2 separate regions of the Homo sapiens genome follow, and region 2 is linked to region 1. The links come from fine-mapping of genetic effects on gene expression. A gene starts in region 1. The other region holds a variant in brackets. All regions are shown on one strand. Distances are from middle to middle. Region 1 holds the start of SCO1 (synthesis of cytochrome C oxidase 1). Region 2 overlaps SCO1 (synthesis of cytochrome C oxidase 1).

Region 1 (17,299 bases):
TTTTTTTTTTTTGAGACGGAGTTTCACTCTTGTTGCCCAGGCTGGAGTGCAGTGGGGTGATCTTGGCTCACTGCAACCTCTGCCTTCTGGTTTCAGGTGATTCTCCTGCCTCAGCCTCCCGAGTAGCTGGGATTACAGGCGCCTGCCACCACGCCCGGCTAATTTTTGTATTTTTAGTAGAGACGGGGTTTCACCATGTTGGCTAGGCTGGTCTCGAACTCCTGACCTCATGATCTGCCCACCTCAGCCTTCCAAAGTGCTGGGATTACGGGCGTGAGTCACCGTGCTTGGCCAGGGGTTTCATATTCATAATTTCATTAGATACACTACTGAGAACACTGCAGTTTGTAGGTTTGCTATTTGCCCAGGACTACACAGTTCATATAAACCAGAGCCAGAATGGCATCCTGTCCTTCCAGCTCTCAGTCTAGCCTTCTCACCTGTTATCCCACATCAATTCTAACTCTAAACCAAGGGTTCTAATCTCAACCTCCAAACCAAGTCTCCCAGCCATGCTGCAAACCCAAATTCAGTTCCGTGTATGTTTTCACGTGCCCATGCGCACATACACGCTTGTATGTTTTAAGCACCCCTGGATTCCTACAATCTCTGATGGCAGTGTACCCATCAAAAATGATTCTATATGAAAATACAAATCTAACTTCCTTGTGACTGTGTGGGAGGCACAGCTTGCACAGTGCTCAGTGCCAGCCGAGCCTGTAGCACACATGCCCTGTGATACCAGTTTTGCTGCATCTGGGCAGCAGTGGCCTCTGTTTGGTGGCCACTTTGCTGATAGGCAGGTCTCTAAGGCTGAGATTTGGTATGGTCCCCTAACTGAATTTCTCACTTAGAAATTACTTCATTAGAGTTTATGAAACTCAGGGCTTCCCTACCTTGAGGAAAGGATCCAAGCCCTGGTAATGACTTCCACTAACAAATTGTTTAGTGTGGTGTCAAGCTCCTTTATAAGCTGATTGCAACCTGGATTCCACACTTTAGAATTCAGCTTGGTGTTTTTTGTTTGTGCTTGGTTTTATTTATTTATGTATTTATTTATTTATTTTTGAGATAGGGTCTTGCTTTGTCACCCAGGCTGGAGTGCAGTGGCACAACCTTGGCTCACTGCAACCTCCACCTCCCGGTTCACGCAACTCTCCTGCCTCAGCCTCCCAAGTGGCTGGAACTACAGGCACGCACCACCATGCCCTGCTAATTTCTTTTTTGTATTTTTAGTAGAGAGAGGGTTTCACCATGTTGGCCAGGCTGAATTCAGCTTGTTCTTAATTTTGAGTCAAGTTTCTTGGTAATTTTTATGTCTTAGTTATCATGGTGAAGTCATCTCACCTTTGGGTTCTTGCTTCTCTTATGGAGAGAAGGTTCAAAAAACAAAAAACAAAAGAAACTTAGAAAAAGCCAAACTTCTGGAGTTTTTATTTTTGTATTAATGTCAATATTCTGCTTGTGATATTATACTAAAGTTTTACAAAATGTTAATGTTGGGGGAAACAGCAAAGCATATAAGTGATTGCTCTGAATTATTTCTTACAAATGCACGTGAATCTACAATGATTTCAATAATAATATTAATGTTTAAAAAAGAAATTACTTCATAAACTGATCTCATTTGAGGAAATTCGACTTTGAACCTAAAAGGCCAACTCACAGGCTCCAATATATGGCAAGATGTTTCTGTTATTTACCTTTTCCTGGTTCATCCTTAAATGTTAATCTTATATTCAGGTGGTTTCTCAATAGAAATTTTTAAACTAAGTGTCCATTTTATAGAAAGAGGATATCGAAACACAAATATTGTTAGTATGCTTTAACGCCTAACTTTTCCCAATCTCTAAAATGTTAGTGTAATCAGATAAATTAAATACTTACTCACAATCACCACCTTTTCTTGGTTTGTGTCAGAGAATGTTAGCACTTCATTCAACCAGTTTAGCTGTTCTTGGCTGAATCCTCCATTAAACTGGACAAACTGGGGCTCAGAAAGTCCTGAAATGAATTCAGTAAGTTAGCCCCATCAAGTCATTTTTCCCCTCATTTGGACATTCAAATTTAGTTAATGTAGGGACACTTGTTTTTTCTTTAGGAATATCTGATTAGCAACAATCAACTTAAAATAGGAAATCACAAGCATTTAGAGAAATATATATATATATATCACACTGCATCTCACTCTTGACAGTCCCCTGCTTACTTCGCTGGCTTTCCATTATATTAAAAATGCAAACTTCTTAAGTCCACTCAGCCGCTACATATTCTTGGCCCCGTTTACACTCTAAAATCACCTTGTACCCCACTGGCCCTTTCCTGTGCTCTTCAACAATGCTCAAGTCTTACTCCATTTAGTGCCTTTGCAGGTTTTTCCCTCAGTCTGCTAACTCCCTATGCCCATTCATTCCAAGGGAGACTCCTCCTTGTCATTTAGGTCTCAGCTTAAATATCTTTCTCCTTGGAGAGACCTTCCCTAATCACCTAATCTAAAATAGCAACCCTAATCCTTTTCCGTAACACTCTATAACATCATACTCTATTTCCTTGGCAGCACTTACGACCGTGGAAATAATCTTGTTTCTGTTTCATTTATCATCTGTCTTGCCCACGTACTGTGTTTGTTCCCTCCATTCCATCCATCAAAAAAGTAATATTGTTAGTATTGTTTACAGCTCGGAATATCTACCCCTAGAAAAAGTGCCTGGCCTAAAATAGGCATTTAAAATATCTGTTAAATCAATCTTGAATCAACTGTAACCAATCCATGTGAGAAGGCTTGTGAGAAATCCTGACCCTGAACAAGTGACAATATACTTTTACCTTAATTGTCCATCTTCCTGCTGAATAAAAGGTAGCTGAAGAATTTAAAGACAATCTATTAGATTCTCAGCTCAAAGGAATAATTCACCTTGAGGACTATTCAGTTCCGTATTTGGATTGTGCTCCCTCAATATCTTCATACACTGCTCGTATTTTGGAGAAGACTGATCCACGCCCAAGACACTCAAGTCATATGCATCAAGTAAAATGAACCGGAATTTAGGGAATGGTACAAAATGATAAGCATAATAATCTTCTGAAGGCATGGTCTCAGGATGATGTACAATCTGATCTTCTAGAAACTTAGTGTTAAGTTTAGAGTGTGTTAAATACTCTCTACTGAAGTTATAGAATTCATGGTTTCCCCATGTATGATGAACTGGAACTTTAAGCCTCTTGAACATGTCCATAACAAGTTCTAGGGACTTTTTGGATGCATTATACTGTGCATTATATCCATCGATGATATCTCCAAGCTGAAGGACACAACAGGGCATGCTGCTTTCATTATTCCAGTCTTCAATGGCACCCTGTAAGTGAAGAAGACTATGTCTGTAGTATCGCCGCCTGGTTCCTTGGAAATTAAAGCCATCTTCTAAGTCTGCAAATTGAACATCTGCGATGACGCCAAAGGAGAAAAGACGCTCTGAACTGTCACTTAGGGCTTCAGGATTGGGTTTATCATCCATAACCTCCAAACAGGTTTCTAAATAAAGTAAAAAGACGATAACTAAATTATAAACGTTTTAATTTCCCAATTTCACTTAAGAAAATGATAAAGGGAATGTTAAAGGTTAATTCATTAGGCAGCTTGGTACAGGAAAAAGTACGTGGGCTTTAGAGCCCAACAGTCTTAGGTCTAAACTACTAACCCTCTAAAACACTTGCTTTCTCTTCTGTAAAACAGATGATAAACTCTTTCAGAAGAGTAACAATTTACAAAAGGTACTATCCTATCAATAAATAGACATTCTAATGCTAATAAAGCCCAATTTAAATCTGGAATAATTGCTAATTTTTAAGAAATACTCATTTTAAACACACATGCACACGCACACACATATACCCCTGTCCCACAAACACCAAATAATTCTATCAAAACTTCAAGTTTTTTTTTTTTTTTTTTTTTGGAAAGCTGTGTATTACATTCATTCACTGTATGTACTTTGTAAAAGGTTCCTGTTATGGGTTATTTTGTGTCAGGCTGAATCTTTTCTCTTCCTTGGTGGGTAGGTCACCCAGTTTCTCATATTTTATATCTGAATAGGTGAGTGGGAGGCAATGCAGATATGAAAGGAGAGGAATAATTTTAAACAACAACAAAAATCCAGCACAAAAACTAACTGACATGACTATTATCATTTCTGTGAGCAGTGGTTCCCGGTTCTTCAATAGCTGGGATTAAAATTTGCTTTGTTTGTGGTTTTTGTTTTTGTTTTTGACAGGGTCTCACTATGTTGCCCAGGCTGGTCGTGGACTCCTGGGCTCAAGCAATCCTTCCACCTCAGCCTCCCAAGTAGCTGGGATTACAGGTAAGAGACACCACACCCAGCCCTGGATCCTAATTTGAACCAGGATTTTTTTTTCTTTTTAACTTGAATATTAAGCTACCCCACAATCAAAACCAAAAATATGAAATCTTTTCTTCTTACAAATGATCTCTGCCCTGCCTCAGTGGCCAAAAAGAGCAAGATTTAAACTTGAAAAAACTATTATTCGATTGTTTAAACTGTAAATTATAATCTCTTAAAAGAGCCCAGAACGCTAATGATTCAAACAAAACTCAAAGGCCAAGATTCTAAATTGTCAACGATTTTTGTCATAAAGACTATAGTAATAAACTGTTGCTGTGGTGTCTGAATTATTTAAAACCTAAAAATTCATTTGACTTTCTAAAATTACTTTCAGACTCCCCATCTCTAGTCATTTGACAAATATATCTACAGAGTTCCTACTTAATCCTCTGTGGACATGTAAAATCCCAACTCTAAGAGTACTCCTATAAGAGATGAAAAGAACAACTCCACAATTGGAATAAGGATAAGACTTCAATTTGACTTATTTGAGAATTAGGGGCCTCTTTTCATCCTAAAACTGTTGTTACTAATGATACACTCTTTAATCCACCTAATTATGAGTTTCAGCTACTTTCTTCCTTAATCTGGTTGGGTATAACTAGCCCTAAAATAGGTAACAGCACCAGAAAGAGATGGAAATCCTTAAACATGGTGTTCTCATACTTTTTTTTAATTTGCCCATTTCTTCCTGCAGCCCCTACCTGAAAATCTCATTAGATATCAAGTCAGTATGTATGAGGGTGTATAAATGAGAGGTAATCTGATTTGAAAAGTGGGTAACTTCAATACAATTACAGGACAAAAATCCATCTAAGTCAGTTTAAAAATCTTTAGCCTTATGTTAGGTTTCAAATATTTGCGATTCCAAGTTCAGATTAATAGAAGAATCAAATCAGAAGATAACTTAGCAAGTATATAACATGAATATTATCACCAAGGTTGTATTAACCTTGGTGATATTAACCATTAAGGTTATATTAACCATTAAGAGTTATATTAACTCTTAAGAGAAAACTATTTCTGGGGGTGATCTTATCCCCTGCCAAGTGAGCTTGTTTTTATCTTTAAACTCAGAGCCTTTATGGTGATAATATGTATTGTGGATCTCCTAGAGGGGATTTAGTCCCAATGAATTGGATCTTCTCTCCAGTGGACAGCTGTTATTTTTGCCTACCCAGCATTCATTTCCTGTTCTTAAGGTGACAGCACCCAATTTTTCTCTAGGCATTTATCCAATTCCCCACTCTCAGTTCTTGTGGTCTGACCTCCAACCCCATTCACTGGCTGGGGAAGTGAAATAGCAGACACATGGCCCAGACCTGGCCCGTAAAAACCCAGTTTCCTCTGGCCAGTTAGGGGTAGGCATGTAACTCAACCTGGGTCACAATAAGCATCAGCCCTGGGACAGGCACTGCCACTACTACAAACGCTGATAAACTAAGGCTTCAATTTTTGGAGAAAATGAACTGACAAGAAATCCAACATAGAAAGAAACAATTCTGAATGATGGAAAGATGGAGATTTCTGAAAACATTAGTTGAATACCTAAATTCACCTGTCCCTGCTAGAACACTGGTCATTTAGTTACACATGTCAGCACATAAATTCTCCTGGGCTTAAAGCTAAATCAAATTGATTTTCTGTCATTTGATACCAAAATCCTCTCAAATACACCTTCCACTGGAACAAGTTCAGTTTAGAAAAACTCAAGGCTATCCTAAGAACTGGCAATTTTTAAGGAAAGTTAATGTGGAGAGAAGCACCAAGGGGCACACACTTCAAAACAGCGATGTGTTCTGGGGTAAAAAGAGAGATCCAAAGTGTTGAATATACATGGCTTTTAAAAATAAGGTTAGTATCTCCTTATCCAAAATGCTTGGGACCAGAAGTGTTTTAGATTTCGGACTTTTTCAGATTTTGGAATATACTTAACAGTTGAGCATTCCTGATCTGAAAATCCAAAATCCAAAATGCTCCAATTAACATTTCCTTTGAGCTTCATGTTGGTGCTCAAATTTCTGATTTGGGGCCATTTCAGATTTCAGAAACATATTCAGGGAAAGATAGGATCAGAAGTGAGTACGGCAGTGCAAAAAGAACCAGGTGGTCAGGGAATTGACTCTCCTGGCGAGTTTAGCCTTTCCTTTCTTGGTTCAGGGACATGTAGGGGGAGCTCAGAAAGATTGGTCCTGGTGAACAGAGAGATCAAAAACTCAAAGCCACCTCCAGTGAGGAAACTTAGAATTAATAAGCATTCTAATGTCAGGAAATGTTTTCAAAATAGCTCCCTCCCTCCATCAAATACAGACACACAAAAAAATCAGTGAGTACAGGATAATTGTGGAAGCTAGAAATGGGTGCATGAAGTTTATTCTAACTACTTTTATGTGTGTTTAAAAATGTACATATAGGCCAGGCGTGGTGGCTCACGCCTGTAATCCCAGCACTTTGGGAGGCCAAGGTGGGCGGATCACGAGGTCAGGAGATCGAGACCATCCTGGCTAACATGGTGAAACCCCATCTCTACTAAAAATACAAAAATTAGCCGGGTGTGGTGGCAGGCGCCTGTAGTCCCAGCTACTCAGGAGGCTGAGGCAGGAGAATGGTGTGAACCTGGGAGGCGGAGCTTGCAGTGAGCCGAGATCGCGCCACTGCACTCCAGCCTGGGCAACAGAGCGAGACTCCATCTCAAAAAAAAAAAAGTATACATAAAGTTTTTTTAAAAAAGAAAATTCAAAACTTTAGAGAAAATCAAATCTGGAAAAATTAGAAGACCTAAGGAAATATTTCGCTTTTGAATAGAAAGGAGAATGGCAAGTTTTTAGTGAACTTTGTTTTCAAAGTTTGCCTGCACCATTTATTACATGCTACGCTGTCTAAGTTTTAAAGAGGTATTATGAAGTGCTGAACCCTTTGAAATGAAAAACCCAGAACTGAATTATAGTCCTCGTGTTTCCTGAAGCAAAATAACCCTCAATAGGTTATCGTGAGCTTCAACTGAGTTATGATCACAGTAAACTATTACTCTGTAAATCTCTAAACCATAAAGTACTATACGCATGTTAAGAAAATAATTTTAAAATTATATATCTGAAAATCTGTCTAATGAGCCTCATAACTGAAACTACTGCAACATTTTAATAGAAGAGAATAATGTAGAAAAGTTTACAAGAGTTGCTCTCAAAATTCCTATCATGTCATAGTACAGGATAAGCAGCCAGTATTTTGAGAAAACTACCTTAGGCATGAGAGATTTTTTTTTTTTTTTTTTTCCTGAGACAGGGTCTGGCTCTACTGCGCAAGCTGGAGTGCAGTGGTGCGATCATGGCTCACTGTAGCCTCGACTTCCTGGGCTCAAGTGATCCTCCTAATTCAGCCTCCCTGGTAGCTAAGACTACAGGCATGTACCACCACACCTGACTTTTTTTGGCTTTTTTTTTTTTTTCTTTTGTAGAGATAGGGTTTTGCCATGTTGCCCAGGCTGGTCTCAAGCTCCTGAGCTCAAGTGATCCACCTGCCTCAGGCCTCCCATACCCAAGGATGCTTAATTACTGAAAAGTTACTACAAGATCATACTAATAGGGTTTTGCCATGTTGCCCAGGCTGGTCTCAAGCTCCTGAGCTCAAGTGATCCACCTGCCTCAGGCCTCCCATACCCAAGGATGCTTAATTACTGAAAAGTTGCTATAAGATCATACTAATAAAACTTTTCCAATACTTAAGATTGGCAGAAGGCTGAAGTTCCTTGTGGAAAGCCTTCAAGCATCAATAATGAACTTGTAAAAGAAGTAGCTCTACCCTGAAAAGAGTATGATTTCTTCACTCTATTGTCAAAGGTGAAGGGGGCAGCAGGGAAAGTCTAGAGATTAATAAAGAGAGACTTTGTTAGGAGAAACTATTGTAACAGAGGCTCCTAGCCTAAGGGTGCAGCATATGTTTTCTACGCAGATACCATACCAAAAGGAAAGTTAAGTTGGGGCAGGAAATGTTTGTGGTTAGGAGTTAGGCACAAGGGGCAGGGGCCTGGAACAAAAATGAAGTAAACACATTAGGGTGCTGGGAAGTTCACAAAAGTTAGGGCCTAGCTGTCCCCAGTCAAACCAGCCTAAAGTTATGTCAAGAACAAAATCTGATCACTATTGATAGAACCAATATCAGATGATACTAATCCATGCCCTGCTTCTCTCAAGAAAAATATCTAAATTGGGGCCGGGTGTGGTGGCGCAAGCCTGTAATCCTAGCACTTTGGGAGGCCGAGGCGGGCAGATCACGATGTCAGGAAATCGAGACCGTCCTAGCTAACATGGTGAAACACTGTCTCTACTAAAAATATATATATTTTTTAAATTAGACAGGCCTGGTGGCACGCACCTCTAGTCCCAGCTACACGGGAGGATGAGGCAAGAGAATCGCTTGAACCCAGGAGGCGGAGGTTGCAGTGAGCTGAGATCGCACCACTGCACACTCCAGCTTGGGCGACAGAGGGAGACTTTGTCTCAAAAAAAAAAAAAAAAAAAAAAGAAAGAAAAGAAAAATATCTAACTTGGAAAACAAAACATAAACCTCATTTGGTGACTTTGGTGGTTTCACAGCAGTAATAAAAGTGATAAGGTCTATAAGGGATAACACTGTAGGCGCCTTCTGGCACTAAAGTTTCATGGGTCCTTGCCATCAGGCTCAGGTGTTACTAGCAATTCATCCAAAATGCAGTTATAAAACACCTACTTTGAGCCAGGAACTATATTTTATATTTATTTTATTTATTTTTTAGAGGCAGAGTCTTGCTTTGTTGCCCAGACTGGAAGGCAGTGGCCCGATCACAGCTCACTGCAGCTTCAAACTCCTAGGCTCCAGTGACCCACTCACCTCAGCCTCCCAAAGTGATGGGATTACAGGCGTGAGCCACCACATCTGGCCCCAAGAACTGTTTTCAATGATAGCATTTTATTTAATATTATAAAATTAATATGAAGAAGTTGCTACTAAAAGAAGCACTTTAGCAAATAAAATTTAATAGATCAGGTAGAAACACTGACTTCAATCTTAATTTGGGTGGCTGATCAGGTAACCTACAATTGGGCAATCAGAGATGAACAATAATTTTGTATGCTATCTGCCTGACTACACAAGGTACTTTTATGTCTTTTTGTCAATTACAAGAAAAAATTATCCCTGGGCAAACAAATACACAAAGATAAAAGAGCAAAAATCCTACCCACAGGCAACTATAAGATAGAAAAAAATAGTTTGATTAACGACTTGAAGTGCTGAACAAACATTTAAGAACTTTGGCAGAAATTTCTGAAAATTCTAGTCCAACCGCGAATCAAGAAACACAGGTAACACTATGTTCCGTTACTGGGTTAGAGAACAGAACAGTTGGCTAGTTTGGCTAACTCATAGAAAACAAGCAAACCAACCATGCTCTGGTCCAACAATCATCAGAGCACGAGTTTCTCCTACTCAGAGTCGGTCCCATGGGGGAAAAAAAAGCCACACAGGAGCGGGATCTGTAGTTAAGGAAGATAATTAGAGGACGATTTTCCTTTTTTTATTTCTCTGTATTTTGTAAAGCAACCACCGAGGTAGGGGCGGGGAGGGAGTGGTTAATATTGCGGATATTAAGATATAAATAAAGGCAGATGAAATGAAGTTAGACTTTCACAAAGAACGAAAAACCTACGAATGCTCTTGGCCTCATTAACAAGGAACATAAGCAGTTCCAGATGAGGAACCCATAACAAACTTCAAATAACGAAACTGTAGGGAGCAAGGGAGTCCGTGAGAGTATTTTAAGAAACTGGGACCCAGGAAGACTAAGTTAACGGATGGGATATCATGCTGTCTATATTTCTTTACACACTGCTATGCTTTATTAATTAGGTTACATTATAATGTTAAATAACTAGAAGCGCTGGGCATTTAAAGTTCTTCCAGACCGCCCTAACCACTCAAATTATCCTAATTAGCAATTTTTTTTAAGTTAAAGACTATTTCAATCGCAATGGGTCGGTTTCTATTTCAAAGATGTAAAGGAGTCAACATTCTGGCACTTCCTCTTGGCCGGCAGGACGAGGTTGACAAAGTCGGCCAGACAAGGTAGGGTTATGGGGGCTGCCCAGTCCCGTGGGTCTCTAGGCAGTGTGTTCTCTCTTCCGAGGTGGGGGTGTCCCCGGCGCGAGGAGCTAGCTGTGGTCACCGAAGCCCACGACCAAAGCGGGGGCCCCCAGCGCTTGGGGCCGCCTTGCCTCGGCCCAGCCGCGCACCTGGACCCCTAAGGCAGCCCCCTTCCCGGCGCTCCGCTGTCCCGCGGCCCCGCAGCACCGCCCAGCCCGCGCCAGACCCGCCTCCAGCCGCAGGGAACTACCTACCGTGCGCCGGCCCCTGGGCTGAAAGGCCTCTGACTACGGGCTATGTAACAGCGCCACCAACGAGCGGGACGGACAGAGCGACTCCTTCCGACTTCCGGAGGAAGCGGAACGCTACCGGAAATCGCGGGGAGGGTCAAAGGAGACCCGGTCTCCGAGGCTCATGGCGATGCTGGTCCTAGTACCCGGACGAGTTATGCGGCCTCTGGGTGGCCAACTTTGGCGCTTCTTGCCTCGCGGACTCGAGTTTTGGGGCCCAGCCGAGGGGACTGCGAGAGTCTTGCTGAGGCAGTTCTGCGCGCGGCAAGCGGAGGCGTGGCGTGCCTCGGGGCGCCCTGGCTATTGCCTGGGAACCCGGCCCCTCAGCACTGCGAGGCCGCCACCCCCGTGGTCGCAGAAGGGCCCCGGAGACTCCACGCGCCCCTCGAAGCCCGGGGTGAGTGCACACCTGGAACCCTTCTGGTGCTCGTCGCGGCTGTCGGCCAGCCCAGCGGCCACATCCCACTTGGTCGTAACCTCAGACACTACTCCGCCTCCCCTAAAGTTGTCCTTAGCTTGCGCGCCTTACCTGGGTCATGGAATTTCATCCTACATTTCCCGTGCCTTGCGGGTAGTCCCAGTTCTCCACAGAGAACTTGAGACTTTACACCCTCTCCACGTGGCTGGATGCCCCGACTTGGATTTTATGTTAGCGTTTCCATCAAAAAAAAAAAAAAAATTAAGTTTCAGGTTTTCTTAAGGGTATGAACCTAAAGTTTACCGTGATTGAGAAGTCAGAGGACTTTTATAATTTGTCACTTGAGCCCCATCCAGAGTTCCATGTATACGTTGAAATTGAAACAAAAAGTGGAACTTAGTTATGTGTGGATCTGCCTTTTTCTTGGGGTTCTCTCGAGTTCTAATTCTGACCCAGAAATAACTTGAGAGCCACTACCCTGTGGTAAGAGAAGTGGGTTTTTGGAGCTACGGGAAGGTTAATGAGTTAGGCCTAGTCTAGTTGGCCAACATCATCTTCATTTGGGGAGTTGAATAAGGGTACAAAGAAATAATGGGTGTAATTTGCAAGAAGCTCCACTTTTAGATTCCTCTTCTACTTTGGCATTGTTACTTCTGGAAGCCAGAGTTAAGTTAACCTCCCAAATTTCGTTTGGTCTATTTATCTCAGTATCAGCATAAGCAGATAATTGTTTTTTGTGTGTGTGTTTTTGGATTTTGGTTTTTGTTTTGAGACGGAGTTTTGCTCTTTTGCCCAGGCTGGAGTGCAGTGGCCCTATCTCGGCCCACTGCAACGTCCGCCTCCCGGGTTCAAGCGATTCTCCTGCCTCAGCCTCCCGTGTAGCTGGGTTTAGAGGGGTCCGCTACCACGCCCGGCTAATTTTTGTATTTTCAGTGGAGATGGGGTTTCACCATGTTGGCCATGCTGGTCTCAAACTCCCGACCTCAGGTGATCCACCCGCCTCCGCCTCCCAAAGTGCTGGGATTACAGGCGTGACCCACCGCGCCCGGCCATAATTGGTTTTAAAGTCATTACTGGAGCTAGGGTCACACATAGTAACAATCGTGGTACTTGAGCTTTTTTTTTTTTTTTTTTTTTTTTTTATTTACATGAAGAGAACTGACTTAGGGAACTTTCCCCTGGAGATGAATGCCTTTGTAGTTCAGATCCCAGACCTAACTGCATCCACAGAAACTTTGAGCATTTTCTCATCCCTGAAACATTTTGCACATTTAACATCATGGCCTGTGTGTATGTATATTAAAAACTACTTTAATAAGTTTGTATGGTTAAATGTTTGCATCTTACTAGAATTTTTATGTTTGAAATCCCTGCCCCAGTAGCCTGTTTCCTGGAAGTCTTTAGCAATCACATTTGCTATTGGAGGAGCTTTACTGGCTGGAATGAAGCACGTCAAGAAAGAAAAGGCAGAGAGTAAGTAGATTATCATCTGCTCAGCCCTGTATAAAGGTCTTCCTGGCTATGGACTAGCACCTTTTTTGTTGTTTTTTAGCTTTTTGTTTTGAAACAACTTTAGATTTACCAAAAAATTGCAAAGATAGCATAGGTTCTACATACCTTTCACCCAGCTTCCCCTAATATTAACATCTTGTATAACCATGACACATTTTTCATGACTAAGAAATTTTAAATGGCACACAACTATTAAATTACAGATTGTATTTGGATTTCACTTGTTTTTCTATCAATGTCTTTTATTTGTTCCAGGATCCAAGCTAGGATACCACTGCATAACAATGTTAAAAGATATACTGTGGATAGATTTGACTGGGCAAGATGAAATCTGGAGGGTACGAAGATGAGTAAGATGTAGTCGAGCCTTTGAGGTGCACACGGAAGGGAAACAGACACAGAAGTAAAGTATTTTACTAGATGCGATTCTGCCAGGCCAGAAGGAAGCTTACCATGTTGTGAGAGCAAAAGCAAGTCCCAGCCTTGAGATTTGAGAAGGCTTCCTAGAGATCAGGCAAGGAGCATAGTGCGAGTAGATACTGCATGCCCTCTGTGGATGAGGGGGAGGTGAAAAGAGCCTGGTCAGGAAATGCCAGGAACTGCTCTGGATTAGCATCTTGAAATATTTAGAAATTATTTATAAGAACTTTGCATTTTAGTGAATATCCTAGGACTTTTAAGATTTGGTTTAGAGGTTTTAGGTAAATCTTTAAAGTATTGCTTAAATCTTTCCATTCTTTGGAGTCTCTTTTGATAACATTATATACAAAGGTTAATGATTAAATCTGGGAATTCATAGGCTTTAGGAACTTAGCAGTGTTAAGTTTTGTACTGACATACATATATATGAGACTCTTTGGCATAATAAGTAGTATTGGGTAAGATTTTCATAGTCTAATAAGCAGTAAGTTTCTTTAGTTTCACAAAGAAACAAAAGCTAGGAAAGTTGTGGCGGGAAAATTCTAGAATATGGAAGCTTTTTTTGACTTTAGTTTGGAATTTCAAGTGCAATTCTAACGTTTGTTTTATTTAAAAAATGTATTATTAAATAATCTGAAAAGTCTTCCTAAATAATTTGAGAGTATTTATTTGCTGACATGTTGCGTCATTAGCTCCAAACACTTTTTGGTGTATTTCCTACAAACAAGGACCTTTTCTAGCATAACCACAATACAACCATCAAAATTAGAAAATTGACGCTGATAATTTTGCTGCTGTTCAGTGTTCAGATAATCTTCAGGGTATTGTTTATTTGTTTGTTTTTTGAGACAGAGTTTCACTCCTGTTGCCCAGGCTGGATTACAGTTCAGTCTTCCAAGTTTTGCCACTTGATGTCTTTCAGAGCAAAAGGATCTGTTTCAGAACCATACCACCTTGTATCTAGTTGTTTACCTTAGCCTCCTTCATCTGTAACAGTTTCCCAGGCTTTAACTGACTCCCACAACCTTGACAGCTTTGACAGTTACAGGAGAGTTATTTTGTAGAATGCCCCTTAGCTTGGATTTGTCTGATGTTTCCTCATTCAGGTCATTCGGGTTGTGTACCTTTGGCAGGAATATCACAAAAGTGATGCTGTATTCTCCGTGCATCTGGTCAGATACCACATAGTACCAGTTGTCCCATTACTGATAATGTCCAGTTTGATCACTTGATTAATGTGTGTCTAACAGGTTTTCTACTGAAAAGTTACTCATGTAATTAATGGTGTTTCATGATTTGTATTGACATACGTATACTTACATATTCTGTTCCCCATCCCACTATCAATGTATTCATTTATTTATATCTGTGGACTTGTTTCCTATATATTCATTCAGTTTAAATCCATATTCTCTTTATTTTGATGCCCAAGTTGTCCCAGATTGATCAGCGGGAGCCCCCTTGGAGCAGGCTTCTGTGTCTTTGACACGTCTCCAATATTCTCTAAGTTCTGCTTTCCTTCTGCCACAACAAGAGGTTCCAGCCTCATTTTACACTTTCTTTGCCGCAACCCTGGTATCAGCCATTTCTCCAAAAAGCTGTTTCCTTTTAGTGAAGAATGATATTTAGAAGTCAGGTTCTGGGCTCATGGTTCTTGGAGTGTGTCTGCTCCCTGGTCCTCTCAGTGGACATGGTGAGAAAATAGATATATTTATGTACATCTATATTTATTTATATCTATATAGATAGAAGTTCACACTAGTACCTGCAGTGTATTTGCAGTACTGCAGGGTTCAGCCTAGCTCTCTTTCTCTCCATAGTTGACTCTTGTTTCCTATTGTAACTCTCTTCTCTTTAATATACTCATTTATTTCATCAATTTCCTGTGTGTAACTAAGGTCCCGTCACCACTATCACCTCCCCACCCAGCTGCCCTCCTTAGCACCCTCAGGATCAGACTCCCTATGCCAGGCCACCCACCGCACCCCACTTGTTTAGACATTCAGCTCTAGGCCACTGCAGCCCCTCCCTGCCCCCAGCATGGACACAGCTAATGGCTTAGGACTGAATTGTTCCTGAAAAAGAAGAAATATTTTTTCCTTTTTTACAACATACCATAGCATTTCATTTGATTTTGTTTTAATGTTTTGTGCTTATTTTTCTGAAAAGATTTTTTTAGCTTCTTGAAAACTGAAACTGTTTTTTCCACATTTTGTGCCCCCACCATGAGTAGCATAGTACGGGCCATATGTCAGGTATTTGAGTACCTCTGGTTAAATTGACTTTTTTTTTGGTGTCGATATGTTTTTGTCTCCTTAAGAGTTAGAGAAGGAACGGCAGCGACACATCGGCAAGCCTTTACTTGGGGGACCGTTTTCCCTCACAACTCATACTGGGGAGCGTAAAACTGACAAGGACTACTTGGGTCAGTGGTTATTGATTTATTTTGGCTTCACTCATTGCCCTGATGTCTGTCCAGAAGAACTAGAAAAGATGATTCAAGTCGTGGATGAAATAGGTAAGAAAGCCATCACTAACTAAACAAAGTATATGTTTACTTCATGTTACCAGGTTTTTCACACCCTTGTATTATTGTTAGGTGGGGTTTTGCAATTATGTGATTTGTAAGAACATAAAATCTCAGCATTTGGCTTGTTTGTTGCTTTGAATCTTGTGACCTTATTCTCCACTGAAAGAAGCTTGTTTTGATGTTAAATGTTAGATCACTTAAAAATGTCAGTGTGGTCTCCCTTAACTCTACTTTTGTGTCCCTTCCTTTGCATCACTGATGCTGCCATTGCCTCTTCCCCACTGATTGTGACAATTAAATTAGGAAATCTTTGCAATGGTCTGCAGTCTGTGGCATTTTACTAGTACTAGTAAGAAGGAAGGGTGCCTCCTCCATACAGTGAATTATTTCAGGATATTCAGCTCTTATTAACAATTTACCTTCTTGCCCTTGAGATATGGTGGGAGTGAAAAAAACTACAGATACTGGAGTGGATTCAGAGATAAGATAGCCACATGACATTATCCAGGGGAAGAACATTTATGTGCTGGTGCAGGCATTTGATAGGATATGTAACCTTGTATTATCCACCACAGATAATACTACTGTATATGGGTCTCCTCCTCCTAAAGGCCATCCCTTCTCCATCCCCTTCCCCGTCCTCTTCCTCTTCACCTGAATGTTAAGATGTCCATCTGCTTTCAAAACACCTAGCTGTCCAGCACGTCCTATACTCTCCTGTTATTGCTGGTTTTCTTTGTCTTTTCCCTTAGGGTGTGAATACGGACTAATTGGAACTCTCTTTCAGATAGCATTACAACTCTGCCAGATCTAACTCCACTTTTCATCAGCATTGACCCAGAGAGGGACACAAAAGAAGCCATCGCAAATTATGTGAAAGGTATTTTTTTAAATAATACTTTACATTTATTTAGCCTTAAAGTTTTTGGAATATCAGTTCATTTGAACCTTACAGTGCCTTGTGAAATAGGACAAATGGTATTATCACCAGTTTTATGGGTGAATAAAAAGGTGAAGCTAGGAATTGTTATGGATAGTTAGTGCGTAAGTAAGAAATGGGTTTCTCAATTCCTGATGCAGTGCTCTTTATATTTTGTCACAGAGAAAGGATTTGAACTTGGCCTTCATGTATCAACTAAGTTAATCGAGCCTTGAATTGAGAGTAAGGACACATTGCTTCTAACTCCAGCGCTGTAACTCATTCTCTGCATTGTAAAATCAGAACAAACATATATTCTGGAAGTATGTTCATTGGTAGATTAAAGATGAATAATTAAATACAAACATATTTTGAACTCAGTGCATGTTTTATAAATTTAAAACATTTACTGTAACAGGCCGGGCATGGTGGGCCTGTAATCCCAGCACTTTGGGAGACCAAAGTGGGTGGATCACCTGAGGTCAGGAGTTTGAGACCAGCCTGGCCAACATGGTGAAGCCCCGTCTCTACTAAAAATACAAAAATTAGCCAGGCACGGTGGTGCACACCTATAATCCCAGATATTCGGGAGGCTGAGGCAGGAGAATTCGCGTGAACCTGGCAGGCGGAGGTAGCAGTGAGCTGACATCACGCCACTGATCTTCAGCCTGGGCAACAGAGCTAGACTCT
Region 2 (13,453 bases), 28 kb after region 1:
CACAAGGGGACAGTCTCGGAGAATTAAGGCGCAAAACTCGGGTCCCAATTTCTAGGTAGGTTCCTGTTTGTTCTGCTGCTATCGTGCGCTTATGGTGACTGTGTGAATCCAACCAAAACGGAGGTTCCGTATGCCAGTGGGGCAACGTTTTTCAGCTGCAAATCTTGGGAAATCAAAAGCAAGGCTGTTTTTTTTTTCTTTTCTTTTTTGAGACAGAGTTTCACTCTTGTTGCCCAGGCTGGAGTGCAATGGCGCAATCTCAGCTCACTGCAACCTCCACCTCCCAGGTTCAAGCAATTCTCCTGCCTCAGCCTCCCAAGTAGCTGGGATTACAAGCATGTGCCACCACACCCGGCTAATTTTGTATTTTTAGTAGAGACTGGGTTTCTCTATGTTGGTCAGACTGGTCTCAAACTCCCGACCTCAGGTGATCCGCCGCCTCGGCCTCCCAAAGTGCTGGGATTACAGGTGTGAGCCACCACGCCCGGCCTCAAGGCTGTGTTTCAGTGAAATATCCCTTGCAAATCTTTACCTGGGTGGGTTACAGTGTTTTCACTAGACTCTTCAATAGAATTAATATTTTAAGAAATGCCACTTGTTTATTTGAAAAGTATAAGAATCCTATCAATGCAGTAGGCATGAATGTATTCATGTGTCTGGCTGTTCATGAAGCAGCTGATATCTTAAGTGTAAGAGGTGAGATTTACTGACTACCAGTAAAATATGCGAGTTGGGAGGCTAATGATTTTAAATTGTAAATGCGTCTGCATAAGATCCTTTAAAATAGCTTTTATTGTTCTTAAATTTATGTTTAAAAGAAATTGACATTAATATTTTCAAATCATCCATAATCTCCCAAACCTTTTTTGGTTTTCTGTTTAGTACCATTTAAATCTTTGTGTATGTGTATATGAGCTACCTTTAAAAGAGCAGTCACCCATGCGAGCATTTGTTACCCAATTAGTTTGTACTTTTTTTTGGTTTTTATTTTGTTGTTGTTATTTGTTTCTTTTTGAGATGGAGTCTCGCTCTTCTCACGCAGGCTGGAATGCAATAATGGCATAATCTTGGCTCACTGCAACCTCCGCCTCCCAGGTTCAAGCGATTCTCCAGCCTGAGTCTCCCGAGTAGCTGGGATTACAGGCGCCCACCAGCACACCCAGCTAAATTTTTGTATTTTTAGTAGAGACGGGTTTCTCCATGTTGGTCAGGCTGGTCTCGAACTCTCAACCTCAGGTGATCCGCCCGCCTTGGCCTCCCAAAGTGCTGGGATTACACGCGTGAGCCACTGCGCCCGGCCTAGTTTGTGCTTTTTACTTACCAGTTAGGGGTTATATTACTGTGTAACAAAATGGACGGTTATTTCTATTCATTAACAAGATTCAAGTAATAGCCTCTTTAGCCACATATTCCTTAATAACACCTTTAGACCTTATAGGGGTAATTATTTTCTATATACTTTTCCAATGTATTTGAAAGTTTGTTGGCTCTTCTTCCGTAATTATACTATATCCTCAGTAAAGAAAGTTTGGCATACAGAAAAGTTGAAGGAAGAAAATTTTCAATCACTGTTGTTCCACTACCAAGAAATAATACTTGGAGGTATTTCCTTTCAATCTTCAACATGAGGATGCTAATGTCCCCCTCATAAGGGGCCTTAAAGTCACTGACTCTGTGCACTATTTCATGAGAACATTGATGTGGGTATTTAACCGAAAGAAAACTTGAGTTTTCTTTTTTTCCTTTTTATTGTGAAAATTTGGAAACTTATTCAAAAAGTAGAATAGTTAACTAATTGATGTACCCATCAGCAAGCTTCAGTGATTACCACCATTTAATTTTGTCTGCACCCCCCCACCCACTGCCACCCCAGCCCATTCCCAGCATGTGCCTCTGAAAGAGACCAACTTTGTCCTTTAAAAACAACCACAGTTGGCTGGGCACGGTGGCTCATGCCTGTAATCCCAGTACTTTGGGAAGCAAAGGCGGGTGGATCACCTGAGGTTGAGAGTTCGAGACTGGCCTGACCAACATGGAGAAACCCGTCTCTACTAAAAATACCAAAGTTAGCCGGGCGTGGTGGCGGGTGCCTGTAATCCCAGCTACTCGGGAGGCTGAGGTAGGAGAATCGTGTGAATCTGGGAGGCGGAGGTTGCAGTGAGCCGAGATCACGCCACTGCACTCCAGCCTGGGCAACAAGAGTTGTCTCAAAAAACAAAAAAGAAAGAAAGAAAAAAACAACCACAGTTTCATCAGCACAGCAAAAAGGTTTTTGTTTTTGCTCTTGGATTTTGTCGTTTGGTTTTTGCTTAATATCAAATATCCAGTCAGTGTAAACTCGTTTATAATTTGGTCCTTTGATTTCAAGGAGCTATGATGCAGTTCGTTGTGGGGATGTGTTGTCTCCATGTCATACATGTGACTTTGTCCATGTTTGCACCCAGTTCAAGGAAGACACAACCCTAGGGAAAGACAACCCTCCCCGCCAAGCCTCTCTTCCCATTCTTAAACATAGGGTGGCGTTATTCAGGTTGGACCAGTTTAAAAAGACTAACGCATTTGTCCTCGTTGTTGGGTGTTTTTTTTCTTTAAATTTGTAAAACAGGAATAATTGTGTTAGGATGAAGTATGATACTAGGAGAACAGGGAAAACTAACCCATCGTGTTAAAAGTCAGAATAGTGCTTAACTCTGGCAGGAGGTGAGATGGTTAGTAATTCAGAAGGGGGTGCCAGGAGAGCTTCCAGAGCCATTGAAATGTTCAGTAGCTTGATCTGGGTGATGATTTACATACATAAAAACATATTAAACTTTGAACTTAAGATTTATGCCTTTTACTGTTTGCACCCTATAACTCCAAAAGAAAAGTAGAGGGGAAAAAGAGTCCCTGCAAAAGGCAGTCTTGAAAGAAAGCAAGTCTGTGATGTGGAGAATGCATTGGACAGCTCTCAGCAATTTGCTGTAGCTTGGGCAGAGAGATAAAAGCTAATGCCAGCATCAGGTTGCCCAGGCGAGAGAAGGCCTGAAAGAAGACAGCGTGGAGAAAGTGTCAGCAAGCTTCAGCAACAGCAGGAGGCAGATGGTAGGAGAGTGGGCCTCAGGTGTGGTGTGGCAGAGCAGAGTAGCCACACTTAGGCCCCAGAGACAGTGTCTTCTCACCCTCAGTTGAAGGGGCAGGAAATCAATCGCTCTAGTCACCCCTAAGCTGGAGGACGGACCTAAAGTTGCCACAGCTTTGAGAGGCAAAGAAGTTTGCTCAGTGGCTTTTAGAGACTTCTAGGGCCCTGGGACCCTGACACTGAGGAGGAGCAAACTGAAGGGGAGAGTGGGCACATTCCTTGTTGGCTGCTGTGGTGAGCAGCAGCTGGTCGTTGTCAGTCAAGCTCCGGACCACTCTGATGATGCTCACTGCATTTTGATGGAGTAAGCCAGGGACATTACCACTGTGTTTGAGCCATCTGAAGTATTCCTGGGTGGGTCTGCAGTTGGCAGCCCGTGATCCTTTTTCCATTCAAGGATGATGCAAAGGTAAGGGGCCAAGGCTGAGCTCTGTAGATGCCTGTGAGAGCCTCCTGGTCTCAAGAGGTCATACCAAGGGCCTTGGCCACCAAGGTTTCGTGAGGACCTTGAGGTGGTTTCGCCATCACAATGTCAGACGTGTCACACACCATCTGGTATGTCCTCACTGTATAGAGGAAGAAGGGCCCAAGTGGTGAATTATCTACAAGTTTGTAGCAAAGCTAATACTCAGACTCCCTCTACAGCCTTGCTACTCAGTGTAGTCTGTGGTCCGGCAGTGTCACACCACTGGGGTACTTAGCAGAAATGCAGCTTCTCAGGCTCCACTCCAGCTCTCCTCAATCACAGTCTGTTTTTTTGTTTGTTTGTTTGTTTGTTTTGAGATGGAGTTTCGCTCTTGTTGCCTAGGCTGGAGAGCAGTGGTGCGATCTTGGCTCACTGCAACCTCCACCTCCCTGGTTCAAGTGATTCTGCTGCCTCAGCCTCCCAAGTAGCTGGGATTACAGGCGCCCGCCACCATGCCCGGTGGCGTGCATGGTAATTTTTGTATTTTTAGTAGAAACAGGATCTCGCCATGTTGGCCAGGCTGGTCTTGAACTCCTGACCTCAGGTGATCCACCCGCCTTGGCCTCCCAAAGTACTGGGGATTACAGATGTGAGCCACCACGCCTGGCCCACAGTCTGTATTTTAACAAGATCCCCACCTCAGTCTTAGGCACATGGATTCTCCTCAACCCCCAATACCACAGAGTCTATTAATTTTTACCCAATAGGGAAGGGGAAAAAGTCAAGAAAGAATAATGAATTAAGTAATCTTTCCCCCTCCAGGAAGCTCTTTATTTAATTTCGCTCCCATGAAACACAATTTGAAGAGTCTCTCAAATAAACAAATTCCATTTTCTGATAATTATTTAATTGCCCCACTTTTGAAATTTTTGTCAAAGACGACTGTCACTCCCTGTCAGAACTTCTATTCAGCACAGTATACCAAGCGTTTCTCCATCGAGTTGTTATAATATGATCAAAAAGCAGGGAGAGATGCTGCTTGGTTACCCTGTGGGGCCTTATCGGGGCTCAGTGCAGTCTTTCCATGTAGGCATTCTCAAATACTCAATTGAAACCTGATTGAGGATCATTTGATCTCTGTTGGCCCTAGTGCAGTAGGCTGCTGAGAACCACTGATGCAATAGACTGAGAGACTAACTGCCTGCTTCCCTGTCAGCCCAGGCTCTGCTAAGGCCGTCTTAGTTACAGAAGAAAGTGGGGCAGAGAGCCCTGCAAGGATTACATTCCATTCCTAACGGAGACAGGCAAGCGTTCAGTGCCCGAAGCAGGGCAGGCCTTTGTATGGCTCACTTTTCCCTGTACCAGCCTCAGCCCCGTACATTCAGAAAGCCCTGTCGGGAACGTGCGGGATCACAGCACAAGACAGTCATTCACTGATTGATTGACGACGTCAACATTGCGGAATACCTATGTTAAGCTGAGTACGAGGGATATAAAAAGTAGGCCCTGGAGAGTGCCTCTGGGATGCACATAACCAGACAAGATAAAGAAAAGGCAGATCACGAGATCAAGAGATCGAGATCATCCTGGCCAACATGGTGAAACCCCATCTCTACTAAAATTACAAAAATCAGCTAGACGTGGTGGCGGGCGCCTGTAGTCCCAGCTACTCAGGAGGCTGAGGCAGGAGAATCGCTTGAACCCGGGAGGCAGAGATTGCACTGAGCTGAGGTC[A/G]TGCCACTGCACTCCAGCCTGGCAACAGGGCAAGACTCCATCTCAAAAAAAAAAAAAAAGAAAAAAAAGAAAAATTAGGGCAGCTTTTAGACATGAGGCCCCAAAGTGCCAACTAGTGCACCTAAACTTCAACTCTCTTTTGAGTGTTTTATGTATCTACTCAGCATCCAGTTGTAAATATGCAAAAATCAATGCCTACTGTATTTAAAAATTACTAAATTCACAATAACCACACAGAATCTATAATAAATAGAATCAATGTAATAATGACTCAGATCCAGGGGAAGAAAATTATAAAATTTTGGAAAAAATGATGAGCTATTAATTAAGAAAATAGTTTGTTCCTTGGTGAGAAGACTCAATGTAAATATGTCAGTTTTCTCCTGACTTAAGTCTTCAACACAGGCCTAATAATATTGCAGTGGCAAATGATTGCCAGGGGCAGGAGGGGATTTGGGGAAGTGGTAAAAATGATCTGTGTCTTGGTAGTGGTCGCTGCACAACTGCATACATCTGTGAAAACTCACTGAACTGCGCACTTTAAAAGGGTGAATTGTAATATACATACCTCAATAAACCTTACTTAAAAATTACAGTGTCTTTTTTTTTTGTAGCTCAACAGAAAGATTCTGAGATTTGGAAAAATAAATGTGAAAAATAAGACCAAGGAGGAAAGACCTGCCTTATCAATAGTAATCTATATTGCTGAGCCATAATACTTTTTTTAAAGTGTAGTACTTATGTAGCATTTAACAGAAAGATCCAGTTGGAAATAAAAGTATGGAATAGATCCATATTATGTAAAACGTTACTATGTAACAAAGATAGTATGATGATCAAGATTATTAAAAATATTGGAACAGTGATTAATGAAATGAAACAAGTTAGGTTCTTAGTCTGTGTCCTCCTTTAAAATGAACATGAGTTTTACAATACCCACTGCCTCCTCCCTTTCTTTCTCTGGAGGTTCAGAATGAGCCTGTTTTTGTAACCACCAAAGTCAGACTAAAATAGTAGGGATGGTTTTTGTAAGCATGACAGCAAAGGCAGAAAGCATAAAGTAAACCATTACTAGGCTTGATCAAAAATATATAACAAAGAGTTACTATCACCGATATATAAGCAGTGTTTACAAATTCATAAGGAAATAAAAGATGAACACCCTGGCTGGGCGCGGGTGTTCCCACCCTGGGATTACAGGTGCTCACGCCTGTAATCCCAGCACATTGGGAGGCTGAGGCGGGCGGATCACAAGGTCAGGAGATCGAGACCATCCTGGCTAACACAGTGAAACCCTGTCTCTACTAAAAATACAAAAAATTAGCCGGGCGTGGTGGCCGGTGCCTATAGTCCCAGCTACTCAGGAGGCTGAGGCAGGAGAATGGCATGAACCCGGGAGGCGGAGCTTGCAGTGAGCCGAGATCACACCACTGCACTCCAGCCTGGGCGACAAGAGCTAGACTCTGTCTCAAAAAAAAAAAAAAAAAAAAAAAATGACCCTGAGAAAAAGCAGGGCAAAGGACACAAACAGCTTCAGAAAAGAGGAATACAAATAGTTAATAATTTAATTCAAACAGTGGAATTTTTGTCTCAGTTTGACAAAACACTAAAAGAATGATGTTACCCATTGAGGATGGGGGTAAAATGGACTCTCACATGGAAAGCGATGGAATGTGAAGTGTGGCAGTCTTTCTGGGTAGCAATTTGTTGATATACAGCAAGCCAGCTATTCCATCTTTATGCATTTATTAACAGAATCATAGATATGCACAAGAATTTGTTCACTGCAGTATTTTTGTAATAATCATGGAAATAGTAAATAATGGAAAACAACCTAGATGCCCAACTCTAGGGCATCCATAAGATACAGCAGAGGCCGGGCATGGTGGCTCACGCCTGTAATCCCAGCACTTTAGGAGCCAAGGCGGGCGGATCACCTGAGGTCAGGAGTTCGAGACCAGTTTGGCCAACATGGTGAAACTCCGTCTCTACTAAAAGTACAAAAAAAATTAGCTGGGCGTGGTGGTGCGTGCCTGTAGTCCCAGCTACTCAGGGAGGCTGAGGCAGGAGAATCACTTGAATCCAGGGGCTGGAGGTTGCAGTGAGCCAAGATCGCGCCACTGCACTCCAGCCTGGGTGACAGAGGAAGACTCCATCTCAAAAAACAAGCAGACAAAAACAATTACAGCAGATAAAACAGTGGTACATTCATAAGTGGGGTACCGTAGAACCATTAAAATAGAGCTATTGATTAATATTTAATGATCTGAAAAGATATCCAATATGTACTTTGAGCAAGTAAGCCGTAGAAGTTTGATCCCATTGTTTGCATAAGCACAAAAAATACCCAAACCTTAACAGGCATTAATAATAGTGGTGTGTTTGTGGATGGCTTTTTATTTTCCACATCTTCCTAAATGAACATATATTAACTTTGCAGTAAGAAAGAGTCATTATTAATTGGGCACTGTGGCATGTGCTTGCAATCCCAGCTACTAGGGAGGCTGAACTAGGAGGACTGCTTGAGCCCCAGAGTTCAAAACAAGCCTGGGCAACACAGTGAGACCCCCATCTCAAACAAGCAAACAAACAAAACACTGTAAATTTCACTTGGAGAAACTGACAGTGAAAAAAAAGATCATTAGGAAAAATAGTCTAGTGTCAGTAAGATAGTTTATCTCTGGGTCAATTTCAGTCAAGTCATTTGCTTCCTACAATACAGCACTAAGTATGATTATGAAGCCGTGGCCAGGCTCAAATGTTGGGTGCTGTGATCCACTGATGATGCCTGCAGGGGTTGTGGGTAAAAGTAGTATCTCCCTTGACCTACTACTCTTTGGCCATGGAACAGAAATGCTGGAGTTTATTGTTGCAGTGTGTGCTTGATTGCTTTTGGTTGGAGAGAGGCATTTCGGAACTCAAGCCTATGAAGGAAATGTTGTTGGTAATGTACTGTCATGGACATTCCCCCTGGAGAATGTCACACGTGGGACTGATAACCCAGCTGCCTCTGCCTCCCCACCTTCAACATACATACACGCTTTGAGATAAAGCCAGTGCTTTGGTCCAAGTAAATCTCTCTTGTGCCTTAAATCACAGAATCAGAAGATAGCAGAGCTGAAGATGATTTTTTATTTTATTTTCTTTATTCCTTTTGAGACAGGGTCTCAGTCTGTCACCCAGGCTGGAGTGCAGTGGTGCAGTCGTGGCTCACTGCAGCCTCAAATTCCCAGGCTCAAGCAATCCTCTCACCTCAGCGTCTGGAGTAGCTAGGACTACAGGCACATACCACCACGCCCAGCTGATTTTTTTGTTTTTTATTTTTTGTAGAGATGGGGTCTGGCTATGTTGCCAGGGCTGGTCTTAAATTCCTGGGCTCAAGAGACCCTCCCATCTCGGCCTCCGAAAGTGTTGGGATTACAGGCGCAAGCCACCGTGCCCAACCTGAAGATGACTTAAGAGGTCATTTAGTTCAACTCCTCTTTTTTTTTTTTTTTTTTGAGATGGACTCTCACTCTGTCACCCAGACTGGAGGGCAATGGCGTGGTCTCAGCTCAGTACAACCTCCATCTCCCAGGTTCAAGCGATTCTCCTGCCTCAGCCTTCCTGCCTCAGCCTCCTGAGTAGCTGGGATTACAGGCGCCAGCCACCATGCCTGGCTAATTTTTGTATTTTTAGTAGAGATGGGGTTTCACCATGTTGGCCAGGCTGGTCTCGAACTCCTGACCTCAAGTGATCTGCCTGCCTGGGCCTCCCAAAGTTCTGGGATTACAGGTGTGAGCCACCGCACCCGGCCTCAACTCCACTTTTTTGGTAAGAGAGGAGGAAATTGAGGCCCAAATATTTAAGAAATTTTAATTTGTATAGGGAAAATTATTTGTCCTGTAATCCTAAAAGATGCTATTAGGGCTCACATCCCTGCGGGGCAGCAGGACATCCTGGGACATGAGGTCTTCCCACAGCCCTGTTGCCCTGGGCAAACATTCCCCACTGAGTCATAGTTTCCCCATCAATCAAGTGGGGATAATTCCACCTGCTCTGCCTAACCCCTGGGATTGTAGAGAGGTTCAGAGGAGATAAGAAACAAATGGGGAAAATATTTGTAATATACACAGTGATTACTAAAATCTTTGCTATGTGAAAGTTCTTAAAATAGAAAAACATTAACATCTTAAGAGAAAAAGGGCAAAGGATATGAAGACTATTCACAGAACTACAAATGACAAGCAAGTGTGTAAGCTGAGGTTCAACCTCACTTGTGGTAAAAGAAAAGCAAACTAAAGCATCAGAAAACTACTGATGTAAACTCCTTTATTTTCTTCTTGTTTGCAGTGTGTTGTATTAGTTACCTTTCTCCAAATATTTCAGTCTAAAACTCCTATAAGTAAGCAACAGTGTCCTGCGTAACTGTAACGCTATTTACACACCTAAGAAAATTAACAAATTCCGTGAGTATCATTTCATATCCAGTTTATGTTCAAATTTCTTCAATTTGTCCCCCAAATGTCTCATCAGATTGTTCTTTTTTTCCTTTCCTTTTTTCCTTCTTTCTCTTCAACCTAGGACCTCACCAAGGTTCATGTAGTATTGCATTTTGTTCTATCTCTTTGATCTCTTTCAACCTAAAATAGGCTGTAGATTTGAATAGATAGAAAGATAGGTAGGTAGATAGATAGAAGAGTCTCCCTCTGTCCCCCAGGCTGGAGTACAGTGGTGTGATCTCGGCCCACTACAACTTCTGCCTCCGGTGTTCAAGCGATTCTCCTGCCTCAGCCTCCTCAGTAGTTGGGACTACAGGCACGCGCCACCACGCCCAGCTAATTTTTGTATTTTTAGTAGAGATGGGATTTCGCCATATTTGTCAGGCTGGTCTCAAACTCCTGACCTCAGGTGATCCACATGCCTTGGCCTCCCAAAGTGCTAGGATTATAGGCGTGAGCCGCCGCACCCAGCCACTGCAGTTCTTTTTATGCTTTGAATATATCTCACTAAGAATGTACAGAGTACTTTTCAAAATTGACAGGAATTAAGTCTTTTGTAAGTGTAGTTATGTTATCAGTTTGATATGTTAGATTTATTAATGTTCTGTTCATATTCAATTTCAGGATTTGCTTTTTCCTTTATATTTACATTTATTTTCAAATCTGTAAACCATTTATATGGTTCAAAAGTCAAAATCATATAAGAAGGCACTCCTCTCCTGGGTCCCATTCACCCTCTATAAGTAATCATTTTCAATAGTGTCTGATTTATCCTTCCTATGTTAGATGTTCTTGTCTCAAAATATTACATTCCAGAACACTGTTTTTTTTTTAACGCTATATCCTGGAAATTAACCTATTTCAGCTCATAGAGACCTTTCTAATTCTTTTTTTTTTTTTTTTTTAGACAGAGTCTTGCTCTGTCACCCAGGCTGGAGTGTGGTGGCACAATCTTGGCTCACTGCAAACCTCTGCCTCCTGGATTCAAGCGATTCCCCTGCCTCAGCATCCCAAGTAGCTGGGACTACAGGCGCCTGTCACAACACCCGGCTAATTTTTGTATTTTAGTATAGATGAGGTTTTACCACGTTGGCCAGGCTGGTCTCAAACTCCTATCCTCAAGTGATCCATCTGCCTTGGCCTCCCAAAGTGCTGGGATTACAGGTTTGAGCCACTGCACCCGGCCTCTGATTCTTTTTTAAGGGTGCATAACATTGTCTCATGTGGATATAACATAATTTATTCAATTAGCCTCCTGTCAATAAACATAGGCTGTTTCCAATCTTTTACTATTATGAACAGTGCCACAATAAATATCGTTATGCTCACAGTATTTTAGTATTTGTGAAAATATCTCTTACCGTAGGTTCCTAGAAGTGGTTTTCCCAATGGAAGGGAAATTGCACGTATCATTTTGCTAGTTTGTTTTTCTAAATTATCCTCCGTAGCAGTTGCACAATTTTCCACCCACCAGAAAAGTGTGAGTGTGTGTGTTATGACAGCTTTGCCAACAGAATGTCTTGCCCAGCATTTGGATTTTCTCCAATGTGATTGGTTAGAAAGTGTGTTTTCAATATGCATTTTTCTTAAATAGGGAAAGGTAAGCATTTTTCATATGTTTAAAGCCCTTCTGTGTATCATTTTCTATAAACCGTCTGCTTGTTTATTTGCCATTTGTTGCTATCTGCAGGGTTTTGTTGTTTTCCTTGTCTTTTTCTTCGTAACTTCTAAGAATTATTTATGCATTAAGGAAGTTGGCCCTTTGTGATGTAAATTACAAATATTTTCTTCCATTTTATCACGTCTTTTAGTTTTGTTTTGTTTTTGTTTTTGTCTTGCTCTGTTGCCAGAGCTAGACTGCAGTGGCGTGATTGTAGCTCACTGTAGCCTTGGCCTCATGGGCTCAAGCAGTCCTCCCCCCTCAGCCTCCCAAGTAGCTGAGACTGAGACTGCAGGCATGCACCACCATGCCTGGCTAGTTTTTTAAGTTTTTTTTTTTTTTTTTTTGTAGAGACAAGGTCTCACTCTGTTGCCCACGCTGGTCCAGAACTCCTGGGCTCAAGCAATTCTCCCACCTCAGCTGGCCAAAGTGTTGGGATTACAGGCATGAGCCACTCCCAAGTAGCTGGGACTGTAGGCATGCACCACCATGCCTGCTGGTTTTTTTTTGTAGAGACAAGGTCTCACTCTGTTGCCCACGCTGGTCCGGAACTCCTGAGCTCAAGCAATTCTCCCACCTCAGCTGGCCAACGTGTTGTGATTACAAGCATAAGCCACTGTGCCTAGCCTGTCATGTCTTTTGGCTCTATTTTAATTTTCCTATAAAGATTTTTAATTGTTATGATGTTGGATTTATCTATTGTTTTTTATTTTACTGCTTTTGAGTCATGGTGGGCCTTCCCCATTTCCAGATTATAAAAGAATCTACCATGATCTAGTTTAGTGCCTGTTTCCTGGCTTTGCATTTTGATTTGATCTATTTGTTATTTAATCTGGTGTATGTGTGAGGTATGGATCCGGATTCATTTTTTTTCCAAATAGCCATCTGGTTGTCTCATCACCACTTATTAAAGAGTCCATCTTTGGTCCACTGACTTGAGATGCCATTTCAGGTATCACATTTCCATAAGTATCCGGGCCTCCTTCTGGACTCTCTATGCTGTTCCGCTGGTCAGTCTGTCTCTTCATGCATAGCACTGCCCTCTTCATTATGTAGACTTTAGAGTGTATGTTTTAGTATCTGGCAGAATGTCCTCCTGTGGCTTTTCTTTTTTCAGTATTTTCTTTACCATACATCCACAAAATTTAAAATCAAGTTTCTAGCTCCAGAAAAAGGAAGTGTTGGTATTTTTATTGGGACTGCATTACATTTATATATTAGCTTGAGGATAATTAACATCTTTATGATGGTGAATCACCCTATCCAAAGCAAGGAATATCTACTTTTGTGTCCTTCAGCAGTTTAAAGTTTTGCATATCTCCTGTTAAGTTTATTCTTAAGTATTTTATCCTCTCTATTGCTATAGAGTCTTTTCTTCCAGAACCAATTGATTATACAAACAGCTCTTCGGGTGATTCTAAGGGATAGCCAGGTTTGAAATCGCTGCTTTAAACAAAAATTCAGTGTTAAATTAAAGGTTATAGTCTGGGTTCGGTGGCTCACACCTGTAATCCCAGCACTTTGAGAGGCCAAGGCGGGCGGACTACTGGAGGTTAGGAGTTCAAGACCAGCCTGACCAACATGGTGAAACCTCATCTCTACTAAAAATACAAAAACTAGCTGGGCATGGTGGTGGGTGCCTGTAATTCCAGCTACTCGGGAGGCTGAGGCAGGAGAATCGCTTGAACCCAGGAGGCGGAGGTTCCAGTGAGCCAAGATCGTGCCACTGCACTCCAGCCTGGACGACAGAGCAAGACTCTATCTCAAAAATAAAAAAATAAAAAATAAAAATAAATGAATAAATAAAGGTTATGGCTTACATTTTAACCAACCCCTACCTCCCAAATTGGCCACCTTTCTTCTATATTTTCTATTATCATGATGCCGTTTGCTCCCAATTTCATCCCTTTGGTAACCTCACAGTGATCTTTGATCTTTCCCTTCCATGCCTGATATATAGCTGGCAGACTAATTTATCTGCTTCCTTGTCTATGTCATTGTTCAGGCCCATCCATTACTTTTAATTCCTTTCTCCAAATCCCCTGGCAAGGTCC

Evidence for each region. PIP is the estimated chance that this variant, and not a neighbour inherited with it, causes the effect.
Region 2: its variant is fine-mapped to the expression of SCO1 in whole blood (TOPMed, PIP 0.92).

Annotation. Positions count from the first base shown.
Region 1 is chr17:10,691,143-10,708,441 of GRCh38, reverse strand. SCO1 (synthesis of cytochrome C oxidase 1) reads left to right here and starts at 10,909. Exons shown (of 6, transcript NM_004589.4): 1 at 10,909-11,207; 2 at 12,611-12,701; 3 at 15,481-15,678; 4 at 16,478-16,570. The coding sequence starts at 10,935. ADPRM (ADP-ribose/CDP-alcohol diphosphatase, manganese dependent) reads right to left here and starts at 10,848. Exons shown (of 4, transcript NM_020233.5): 1 at 10,775-10,848; 2 at 2,915-3,532; 3 at 1,888-2,004. The coding sequence starts at 3,515. RefSeq lists a silencer at 10,481-10,810 and enhancers at 10,931-10,980, 10,696-10,990, 10,284-11,108, 11,109-11,932.
Region 2 is chr17:10,664,872-10,678,324 of GRCh38, reverse strand. It overlaps SCO1 (synthesis of cytochrome C oxidase 1), which reads left to right. Exons shown (of 6, transcript NM_004589.4): 6 at 1-5,851. It also overlaps a transcript of MYH3 not described here. Among named protein-coding and RNA genes, the nearest start is that of MYH3, 14 kb to the right of the region's middle. The variant A/G (reference allele first, on the strand shown) is at 5,259.